2 separate regions of the Homo sapiens genome follow, and region 2 is linked to region 1. Evidence: fine-mapped expression QTL. A gene starts in region 1. The other region holds a variant in brackets. All regions are shown on one strand. Distances are between the middles of the regions.

Region 1 (5,387 bases):
GGGGTCCCAACCCAGACCCTAAGAGAAGGTTCTTAGATCTCGTGTGAGAAAGAATTTGGGGCAAGTCTACACAGTAAAGTGAAAGCAAGAAAGTAAAGGAATAAAAGAACGGCTACTCTACAGGCAGAGCATCAGCTTCTGGACTAAGGATACTGATATGGTTTGGCTGTGTCCCCACCTAACTCTCATCTTAAATTCCCACATATTGTGGGAGGGACCTGGTGGGAGGTAATTGAATCATGGGGGCAGGTCTTTCCCTGAGTAATTTATACTGCTGTTCTCATGATAGTCAATAAGTTTCATGAGACCTGATGGTTTTATAGAAAGGAATTTCCCTGCACAAGCTCTTTGCCTGCTGCCATCCATGTAAGACCTGACTTGCTCCTCCTTGCCTTCTGCTGTGGTTGTGAGGTCTCCCCAGACACGTGGGACTGTAAGAGCATGAAACATTTTTTCCTGGTATAAATTACTCAGTCTCAGGTATGTCTGGATCAGCAGTGTGAAAATGGACTAATACAGATACTTACAGTTATTTCTTGATTATGTACTAAACAAGGAGTGGATTATTCATATGTTTTCTGGGAAAGATGTGGGCAATTCCCAGAACCAAGCGTTCCTCCCCTTTTTAGACTATATAGGGTAGCTTCCTGACATCGCCATGGTATTTATAAACCACTATGGAGCTGGTGGGAATGCCTTCTAACTTGCTAACACATTATAATTCGTGTATAATGAGCAATGAGAATGACTAGAGGCCACTCTTGTTGCCATCTTGATTTTGGTGGGTTTTGGTCAGCTTCTTTACTGCAACCTGTTTTATCAGCAAGATCTTTATGACCTGTGTCTTGTGCCAACTGCCTATTTCATCCTGTGACTTACAATGCCTAACTTCCTGGGAATGCAGCCCAGTAGGTCTCAGCCTTATTTTACCTAGCCCCCATTCAAAATGGAGTCATTCTGGTTTGAACACCTCTGACAATAGGACAGATCTGGAATGAGCCATGCCTGGGTACAGAGTCACATCCACAACAATGAAAGTTGTAGATATCTGCAAGGACTCATCGTGGGACCAAGGATTCAGGGGCTCATTCTTTCTCCTCTCTCTGTGTGCTGGTTGCCTCAGGAGTAGAATGTCCCATGCTATGCATGGGGTCTGCAACCATCATGCCAGGGCATGATGAATCGTAGGTGGCAAAACAACAGAAGGCTCTGTGAGCACCCAGGAGGGTGCAGTGCTGAAGAGTCTTCTGCTTGGTATAGGAAGAAAGGAACGTGTTTCCCAATCTTGCCTTTATTTTGAGTAGTTGGACCAGAGGGATTGCAGCTGGGCCAAACTCCATGTTCCATTGGCTATCAGGGTCAGCAGGCAGGCCAGGGGCCCAGACAGGCCAGTGGCTCCCAGAATTCAAGTTTAATTTCTCCTCCCACCTGTGTCCTGAGCTCCCCTTACTGGTTCCCTTGGACCACTGCATCTACTTAAGCCAGCATTTATTATGTTGTTATCATAAATGCCTCTTACACCTGAGACTTATAAATGTGACAAGCTCTTATTGTGAGATAGTAATCCATCTTTTTTCCCCATGAAATAATAATTCTAACGGGTGGTGATAGTACTTTTCCTTTCATTTTGAAGTGGAGAAGCTGGAGCTAAGTCATTAAGGACTTGACCCTGGACCCCACAGCCTTTTCTCCACAAAGCACAAAGCAGAGTGATGGTCCCAGGGATCCCACACAGCTCTAAGCTGGGGGCACTCACTGCTGGGCCACTAGTGACTCCCATTTTCTATCCTGGCTGACCCTCGCTATTGAAGAAGATCTGAGTCCTGCAGAAGGACAGCAAGGAGAAAAACAAGACACAGAACGGGACAGAGAAGAATAGAAAGCTGACTCAGATGAATTTTGTGATGCCAATGAGTCCTACTGCTGTTACCACCCCTTTTTCCACCACACCCTTCAGAGCAGTTATAGAACCACAAGCAACCCATAAATAGCAAAAGAAGTAACATCAGCTAGGAAGGCTTAAGGACTCCCAAGGGAGTTGGTGGCAAAAGTAGAAAGATCTCAAATCAGAGTCTGTGAACTGAACCTCTGCAGGCTTCCTGTTTTTAGATACTCTGTGTTGGGGTCACATGATAGTTTACAGGGTTATTAATTGGTTCCTTCTTTTTATTGCTGTAAAAGAAGGATATTTTCTTCCTACGTTTCCCCCTCCTTTACCGGAGAGGCGGAGTGCAAATGATATGAACAACGTCACTAGTTTTCTCCTAAATCTTATGAGCCCCGCCTCCCACAGTAGTTTCACTTCTCAGTTTAATCCGGTCTGAGTTAACTTCCTGACCCAGGAAGTGGCAGCAACAGAGGGGACTAGCAGCGAATATGTAAGTGTCTGAGCAGTGAAGGTTACGGAAAAGGTCCAGGCTAAGGTTTTCTCAGTGGATATGTGAGTGTGTACTGATGGCAAGTGGGGTGGGGAATATATTTCGTGACAGCAGGGCCCCTCCAACTCTGAAAATGGTCAGGACTTTCTTTGTTTTACAGCTCTCACCTCTTTCCTGCTCTTTCTTTCACCAGACTTTACACCAAATCTCAGAAGATTCAGAACTTAGATGAGTGGGGCCCAGGACAGGAACCCTGGAGCCTTGGAAGGAGGGGAGCCCCATCTCCCCAGAAGAGCAGTGACCCCAGCAGAGAGGGGCCTGGTGTATCACTGGAGGAAATAGCCTGCCAAGGAATACACGTCTTCAGAAGAAATTCTGTGTGGCTTCAAGAGACTGATCAAATTGTGAGAGGAAAACAGCCTACCCGGTAATTGTAGTTAAATTACTGTTTTTTATTCTAGGCACTCTTCAAACTTCCTCCTGACTCTGCCCCTGTCCTAGAGGAGCTCCCAGGAGTAGGGGTGTGGGGGCGGGCGGGGGGGAGGGATCGGGGGTACAGGGAGAGCCCAGCTAGGTTCTCAGAAGAGGCAGGCTTTTTCGCTCCTGGTCACTCCTCTGTTGCCTATCCCTGGCCTCCCCCATCTTCTTTCTGCCTTCCCTACCTCCTTGGGTCTGCAAACTCTTTATGTTGCAATCACTCTGAACATGTCTCTTGAGATAGGTCCTGTCCTGGAGAAGAGATAGTAAAAGTAAACTCCCCAGTTCTGCAGGAGCTCTGATCCCATAGAAATAACTGCTCCTCAGGAGCAAACCCTCTGCTCTGCAGCCTTCTTTCCAATTCTTATTCCCTCAGTTTAGGGAGAGGGCACAAAAAGGATAAACCGGTTCTTCTGGTTGTTCTGGTTGCCTTGATTGCTTCCATTATCCTCCTGGTTGGGTCTCTAGCAAGACGTTATTAGCCAGGGAAGTCCCACTTAGGCACCCCTCTCTGCAGAAGAGGTATTCACTATTCTCCTTTCTCTTTCTTTTGCCTATTATACCTCTGCTCCTGAAAGCAAAAACAACAACAACAAAAACACAAACAAAAAACAACCGACCTTATTAACCAGTGTTGGTTGTTGTTCTTTGTGGGGGATGGGGGGGGTCGAGGTGGAGTCAAATTTTATTGTCATGATGGTGTAGGAGCCAAGGGAACACTTCCCCTTTGCCTTCTGAAGTTCACTGAAAAATCGACTCACAAAAGGCAGGCTAATTGGAGAAAAGGCATACAAATTTATTAACAAGTACATGGGCTAGAATCACAGAGTGATTACCCCCTCTGCCAATGGGGGTAGATACTTATATAGCCTTATTTATAAATACTTATGTATAAATACATAAATATAAATATGTATGCATATGTATGTATGTATAAATATGTATGTATACTGTATAAATATGTATGTATAACGTTTATACATGTATACATATTTATTTCAGAGGGGAAGGGTGATATCAGGAGAATATAGGTAATTCTTTGAGGGGCAGTAAATGATTACTAGGGAGAATAAATGAATATTTGGGAGGATGAATGAATGGAGGAACAGAGTTTAACTTGTAAATGGTTCTCTTTGGAAAATGAATGAGCCTGAGAGACAGACATTATTTTGTGAAAGTGTCTGATTAGGTCTGGTTACATTCTTAGTCCTCTTTTCTTCAGTACAAAATGAGATAATAGGGGTTGGAAGGAAAAACAATTGTTCTTCTTGTCTAGTGTGACTGGTCTTTATGTAGATAGGGGAAAAGTCTCTTCCAGCATCTGCTGATCTCTAAGGGCCTTTAATTCAAAATACTCATTATACCAGGGAGTCATATATTGGGGTGAAGCTCCCCATACTCCTTCAATGGAATCTGTCACAGATCACCCAATTGCATAAGTGTTACTACTAATTACAAAGAGTAATTCTGGTACCAATTATTCTTTTTTTTTTTTTTAAGACAGATTCTCGCTCTTTCACCCAGGCTGGAGTGCAGTGGTGTAATCTGGGCTCACTGCAACCTCCCCCTCCGGAGCTCAAGTCATTCTCCTTCCTCAGCCTCCTGAGCAGCTGGGATTACAGGTGTGCACCACCACATCTAGCTAACTTTTTGTATTTTTAGTAGAGATGAGGTTTTGCCATGTTGGTCAGGCTGGTCTCAAACTCCTGACCTCAGGTGATCTGCCCGCCTCGGCTTCCCAAAGTGCTAGGATTACAGGCGTGAGCCACCGTGCTGGCCTGGTAACAATTATTCTTGAAGTTAACTAGAATAGGAAAGAGTTTCACACTCCCTGAGTTCTCTCTTTTACAGCTTTTGTGAGGAAGCCTGCATTGCTTCTCCCAGCACTTGGTCCAAGGTAACTTTCTGTGATAACAGAATGTTGTATATTGAGGCTGTTATGTAGCCACTAGTCACATGCAACTATTAAGCAATCAAAATGTGGCAACTGGAACAGAAAAACTGAATTTTTTCATTTTAATTTTTATTAAGTTAAATTTAAATTCCTACTCATGATAGTGGCTACTGTATTAGCTATACAGCTAGATGTTTGTGTATCCTCTAAATTCCAATGCATTTCTTCTTTCTGGAGAGAAGACTTTAGCTGGACATGGTGGCACATACCTGTAGTCCCAGCCACTCTGCCAGGGTGAGGCAGGAGGATTGCTTAAACCCAGGAGGTCGAGGCTGCAGTGAGCTGTGGTCATGCCACTGCCCTCCACTACAGCCTGGGCAAGAGAGCGAGAACTTGTCTTATAAGAAAAGAAAAAGAGGCTGGGCACGGTGGCTCATGCCTGTAATCCTGGCACTTTGGGAGGCTGAGGCGGGTGGATCACAAGGTCAAGAGATCGAGCCAACCAACATGGTGAAACCCCATCTCTACTAAAAATACAAAAATTAGCTGGGCGTAGTGGTGCACACCTGTAGACCCAGCTACTACTCGGGAGGCTGAGGCAGGAGAATCGCTTGAACCCGGGAGGCGGAGGTGCAGTG
Region 2 (5,387 bases), 97 kb after region 1:
CCTCTTCTCATCCCCTCTGAAACTATTCTGTTCTAAAGTTTGCTACTTTAAGGTTCACTACTTCTTATTTTACTCTCCGACCCCAAGTAATTGCTATTTTTTTCTTGAGATTAAAGGCAAAGTAAATTGTCTGCCCATATATTTGATATAATTATAGATTCATATTTAGGGACAAAGGTAATATTACAACTCCCCAACAATTTCTGCTCAAATATATGTTTTCATGAAAATATGTGTTAAAGAGAACAGCCTTAGATTGTGGGAAAGTCAAAAGGGAACCTACAAATAAGAGTTCAATGACAAATGAAAAGTGAAACATCTTTTAGACTAAGGGTGACCCCATTGTTTTATTAAATAACATTTGTCCAACATTTGTAAACATTGTCTGCTTGTGTGCTTATGTCCTCTGGGAATTAACAGTCTAATGAGATTAGTGATGGATGAATTAGCAGTGGTGGAAAAACACTTAGACCGGCTATTCCTCAGAGTGACAGGGTATAAGAATTATACAAAATTATGGAAAGTGTATAAACAATTGAAGCACCTGCATCATACTAATATATTGTAGTAAAAGAAATAATATAAGGCTGGGCCCCGTGGCCCACGCCTGTAATCCTAGCACTTTGGGAGACTCGGGGGCGGATCACCTGAGGCCAGGAGTTTGAGATCAGCCTAGCCGACATGGTGAAACACCATCTCTACTAAAAGTACAAAAATTAGCTGGGGGTGGTGGCACTCAGGAGGCTGAGGCAAGGGAATCGCTTGAACCCGGGAAGCAGAGGTTGCAATGAGCCGAAATGACGCCACTGCACTCCAGCCTGTGCAACAGGGTGAGACTCAGTCGAAAAAAAAAGAAAGAAAGGAACAATATAAGAACATGTCACTTAGGCCAGGCTTGGTGGCTCACGCCTGTAATCCTAGCACTTTGGGAGGCTGAGGCGGGCAGATCGCCTGAGGTCAGGAGTTCGAGACCAGCCTGGCCAGCATGGTGAAACCCCATCTCTACTAAAAAAAATACAAAAATTAGCCTGGCGTGGTGGCAGGCAACTCTAATCCCAGCTACTCAGGAAACTGAGGCAGGAGAATCATTTGAACCCGGGAGGTGGAGGTTGCAGTGAGCCGAGATTGCCTCGTTGCACTCCAGAAGCCGAGATTGCCTCATTGCACTCCAGAAGCCGAGATTGCCTCATTGCACTCCAGCCTGGGCAACAGAGCAAGACTCCATGTCAAAAAAAAAAAAATAAAATAAACATTTCACTTAGATCTTATTCTATGTGCAATGAACCCCCTTCTCATTTAAAACTCAGCTAAGTATATCCATCATGAAAATAGCTATGAAACGTCTTGATTACCAGGTAACTGGACCTTCTTTCACTATAAATTGGTGTCCTGGTTTATAAATCGACATGTAAATTTAATCGCTGTGATTCAGTTCTCTAATATGATTTTTCTAGTCGACTCAATCTAATCACATCTCTTTATATGCAAATCTCAAGTCCAGACCTCAAGCCATTAGGACATCCAGCCACCCAGAATCTTGTCCCCAACCTCCTGGCAACATGGTGGAGGCCAGAAGACAGAGAAACATGTAACCAACCCTTTTCTAGATCCTTTATAAAGTGTGTTGAAAAAGTTATGCAAAACTTAAAAGCAACGCAAAAATATTTCTCCATATCCTTCCAAGCTATATTAGAGAATTATCTAAAAAGCCTACTTATGGGGTACCTGATGATGTAAGGCAATACTAGACAGTAAAATAGAATGTGAATCACATAAATACTTTCCAGATTTCTAGTGGTCACATTGAAAGAATGAAAAGAAACAAGTAAAATTAATTTTAAGATATTTTATTTAACTTAATATATCTAAACTATTATCACTTCAACATATAATAAATAAGCTAAAAAAAAAGACAGTTGACATTCTTTTTTAAATGATAAATCTTCAGAACCTGGTGTGTATTTTACACTTTTAGAACATTTTAAATCAGTCTAGCTATAGTCCAAATGGTCAATGATCACGTGTAGCTAGTGGTACCTTATTGGACAACACTGTCCTACGTGAAAGTAACTCTGACTTAATGTTTACATTTTATTGGGTCCAGACTATCTAAAAGTAAACATTCACTTGTAGAAGTTTAATAAATTAATAAGGATTTTGTCATAGAGATGGAAATGAATTCTTAATATAGAAAAAATGACCCTAAAAGTTATTATTGTATTGCCTAATAAGTCATTAAACAACTTTATATCTGATTTTCCCTTCCTCTTCCAGTATACATCCTTTCCCTGACCAAATACATATTTTATTCTCCCGTATCTTCCTTTGACCTAATTGTGATTCTGCTTCCTCCTTCATTAATGAATTAAATCATTCATTGACACATACACAAGCTCACTATATATAGTACATATATGTCAGTCATGTTTTTAACTTCCTGAATGTTGTACTTTGACACTTGGTTGTTCAATTTCGCCTAAGAGCTCTGAATCAGAACCTTTAGAAGCCATTCTGAAAAACTGGAAGATACAAAGCTTTTGACTATCAACTCCATAGCAACCTGATATCTGGTTGGTGTTCCATGGAAACTGTATTTCTCAAATTTTGAAATAAGATTGAACAAGCCTGTGAGCAACAACA[A/AC]AAAAAAAGTCTATTAGAATGACCTCTGGCCGGGCGGGGTGGCTCACGCCTGTAATCCCAGCACTTTAGGAGGCTGAGGTGGGCAGATCATGAGGTCAGGAGTTTAAGACCAGCCTGACCAACATGGTGAAATTCCGTCTCTTCTAAAAATACAAAAATTAGCTCGGCATGGTGGCGTGCATCTGTAATCCCAGCTACTTGGAAGGCTGAGGCAGGAGAATCACTTGAACCCAGGAGGCGGACGTTGCAGTGAGCTGAGATTGCGCCACTGCACTCCAGCCTGGGTGACAGAGCGAGACTCTATTTCAAAAAAAAAAGAATGACCTCCAAGGGAAAGTTCAGATTAAGGATGTGGTCGTCCCACCCAAAACTGATGTCCTCAAGAAAGCCACAAACAAATTGAGGACACAGTTAAAATATTGTAATGCAATATATTGTGTATTCTTTTATTTACACACACATCATAAATATTATAGGTTGACTAGTTTTGTTTCATGCCACACTCTTCAGGGTCTGGAAACCCTGGTAGAAAAGTTAAAAATGCAGAGCAAAATGTCAAGTCCAAACAGCAGTAATGGGGCTAGAGAGAGACTCAAACAGCCAAGATATATTCAAAGGATAGTGAGAGGAGTTGTTAGGACAGGTGTAAGGAATGAGGGTGACAGCTGGTTTTTCTTTCACTTTTTCCTTCTACTATGCCAATTAGAGTTCTTTGTTTTTGATAGAGACAGGGGTCTCACTATGTTGCTCAGGCTGGTCTCAAACTCTTGGCACCAAGTGATCCTCCTGCCTCAGCCTCCCAAAGTTTTGAGATTATAGGTGTGAACCACCAAGCCCAGCCTTAGAGTAGGGTTCTGTCATCTTTTGGATGTAGCTAACCTAATATTACTAAATCCTGTATAGGCCAGAACTTTGAATGATTTAAAGCTGTTTTTTCCTGACTCACCAATTAATGAAGCTAATAATAACAGCCACCCCACTGGCAGTGCCTGCCTCAAAGAGTAAGTGTTAGTGTTGCTATCTGCTTGAGACCAACAATACAGGGACTCCAGGATATTTTCAGCCTAAATAAGATTGTAGGGGCTCTTGTCTGTTGCCTGGCTTCAGCCCCATAAACTTTTTTTTAACATATAACCCAGAGCCACAGTTTTGCTCATATTTCAATCTTTGAAGGCAAATGGCCAACAATTAGATTAAACCTGAGGCTAAATATTTCCTCACCTCAAGGGCTGAGACGAAAGTTACTGCATCTGTATTCCCTAACACGCCCTCAAAATGGGTTGCAGAAAACAACAGAAAATATACTAAAGCACACAGTAGGAGCATAATAAATAGTGATTAGCTGGGTGCAGTGGCATGCGCCTGTAGTTCCCGCTACTCTACTCATGAGGCTGAGGCAGGAGGATCACTTTTGCCAAGCAGTTTGAAGTTGCAGAGAGCTATGATCACAACACTTCACTCTAACCTGGGCAACAGAGCAAGACTCTGTCCAGAAAAATAAATACATAAATATAAAATTTAAAAATATAAATAAATACATAGAGAGTATTACAAAAGGAACAATATATTGCAAAATATATTTACCTAACATTTTGAAATTGCCATTATAATTGTATAAGTGACATAGGAAACTGGGTCATTAACAGCTATCTTATTCTTCAAGCTTCTTTCAAATGATGTCAAAGCATTTCAGAAAGTCAAACCTACCCTCAAAGGATAAGAATTTGTCAATTGTGAGGATATGCACATTTTTACACCTTCTCAATCTGTGTCTATATGAAGGCAGTTATAAAGCACAAGATGCAAACGTATATTAGGCAATAGTCTTCATCAGAATAAGTACATAACCTGACACAATGACTATATTGGAAGAAACATGGAAATGCAAATTTCAATAGATTGGTTGACATTATTTTTTAATGTCTAGTTTTTTACTGTGCTGTGTTTTTACACACTTAATGAGCACTTGTTAAGCACAGGACACCAGGAGAAATAATAAAAACTAAGATCAGCCTAGCAGTGTGTCCTCTCAAGAACTTATACCTGGTGGGACAGATACAGACAAATATAACCATCATACAGTGTGAGAAATCGATAGAAAAGACACAGCCACTGAGAGCACAAAAGAATAAAAACATAAAATGTTAATGTGCTGGCTAAACGTTTGCCTTCAAGTATTTACCAGTCTAGCTGGGAAAATAAGACAGAAGACAACAGCCTAAAATAGTGGTTCTTAAACATTTAGATATCAGGACTTCTTTACACTCCTAAAAACTATCAGGCCTCCAAAAAATATTTTGCTAAATATAGGCATTTATCACTTTGGAAAACAAAGCTGAGTATTAATTATTTAATTATTTATATTAATATTTATTTGATAACCTTTAAAATATTATAAAATTAATATTTATTTATAATGCATATATGTGATTATATAGTTCATATGTAGCCATATATTTATCATATATACCATAGATTTATGTTATATATTACATATGTATGAAGAAAAAATGGAAAGTAAACCCAAAAGTTCCCCATTCCCTAACCCATTCAAAACCCTGGAAGTCCCAGGCTAATCTGAAACTTGTAAAACTGCCTGCATGTAGAGAGCACAGCTGAGCTGGTAGTGTGGAAGAGCAGAAAGACAGCAGTTCTGGAGCAAGGAAGCTTTATATTTAATCCCAGTTTCTCCATTCATGAGCTTGGTTACCCTGCCAAGTTCCTTCTCTGTAAAATGGGAATAATAC

The links. PIP is the estimated chance that this variant, and not a neighbour inherited with it, causes the effect.
Region 2: its variant is the best candidate, but not a certain one, in a credible set for the expression of TRIM38 in whole blood (TOPMed, PIP 0.76).

Annotation. Positions count from the first base shown.
Region 1 is chr6:25,960,478-25,965,864 of GRCh38, forward strand. TRIM38 (tripartite motif containing 38) reads left to right here and starts at 2,325. Exons shown (of 8, transcript NM_006355.5): 1 at 2,325-2,378; 2 at 2,572-2,805.
Region 2 is chr6:26,057,665-26,063,051 of GRCh38, forward strand. No RefSeq gene overlaps it. Among named protein-coding and RNA genes, the nearest start is that of H1-2, 3.9 kb to the left of the region's middle. The variant A/AC (reference allele first, on the strand shown) is at 2,641.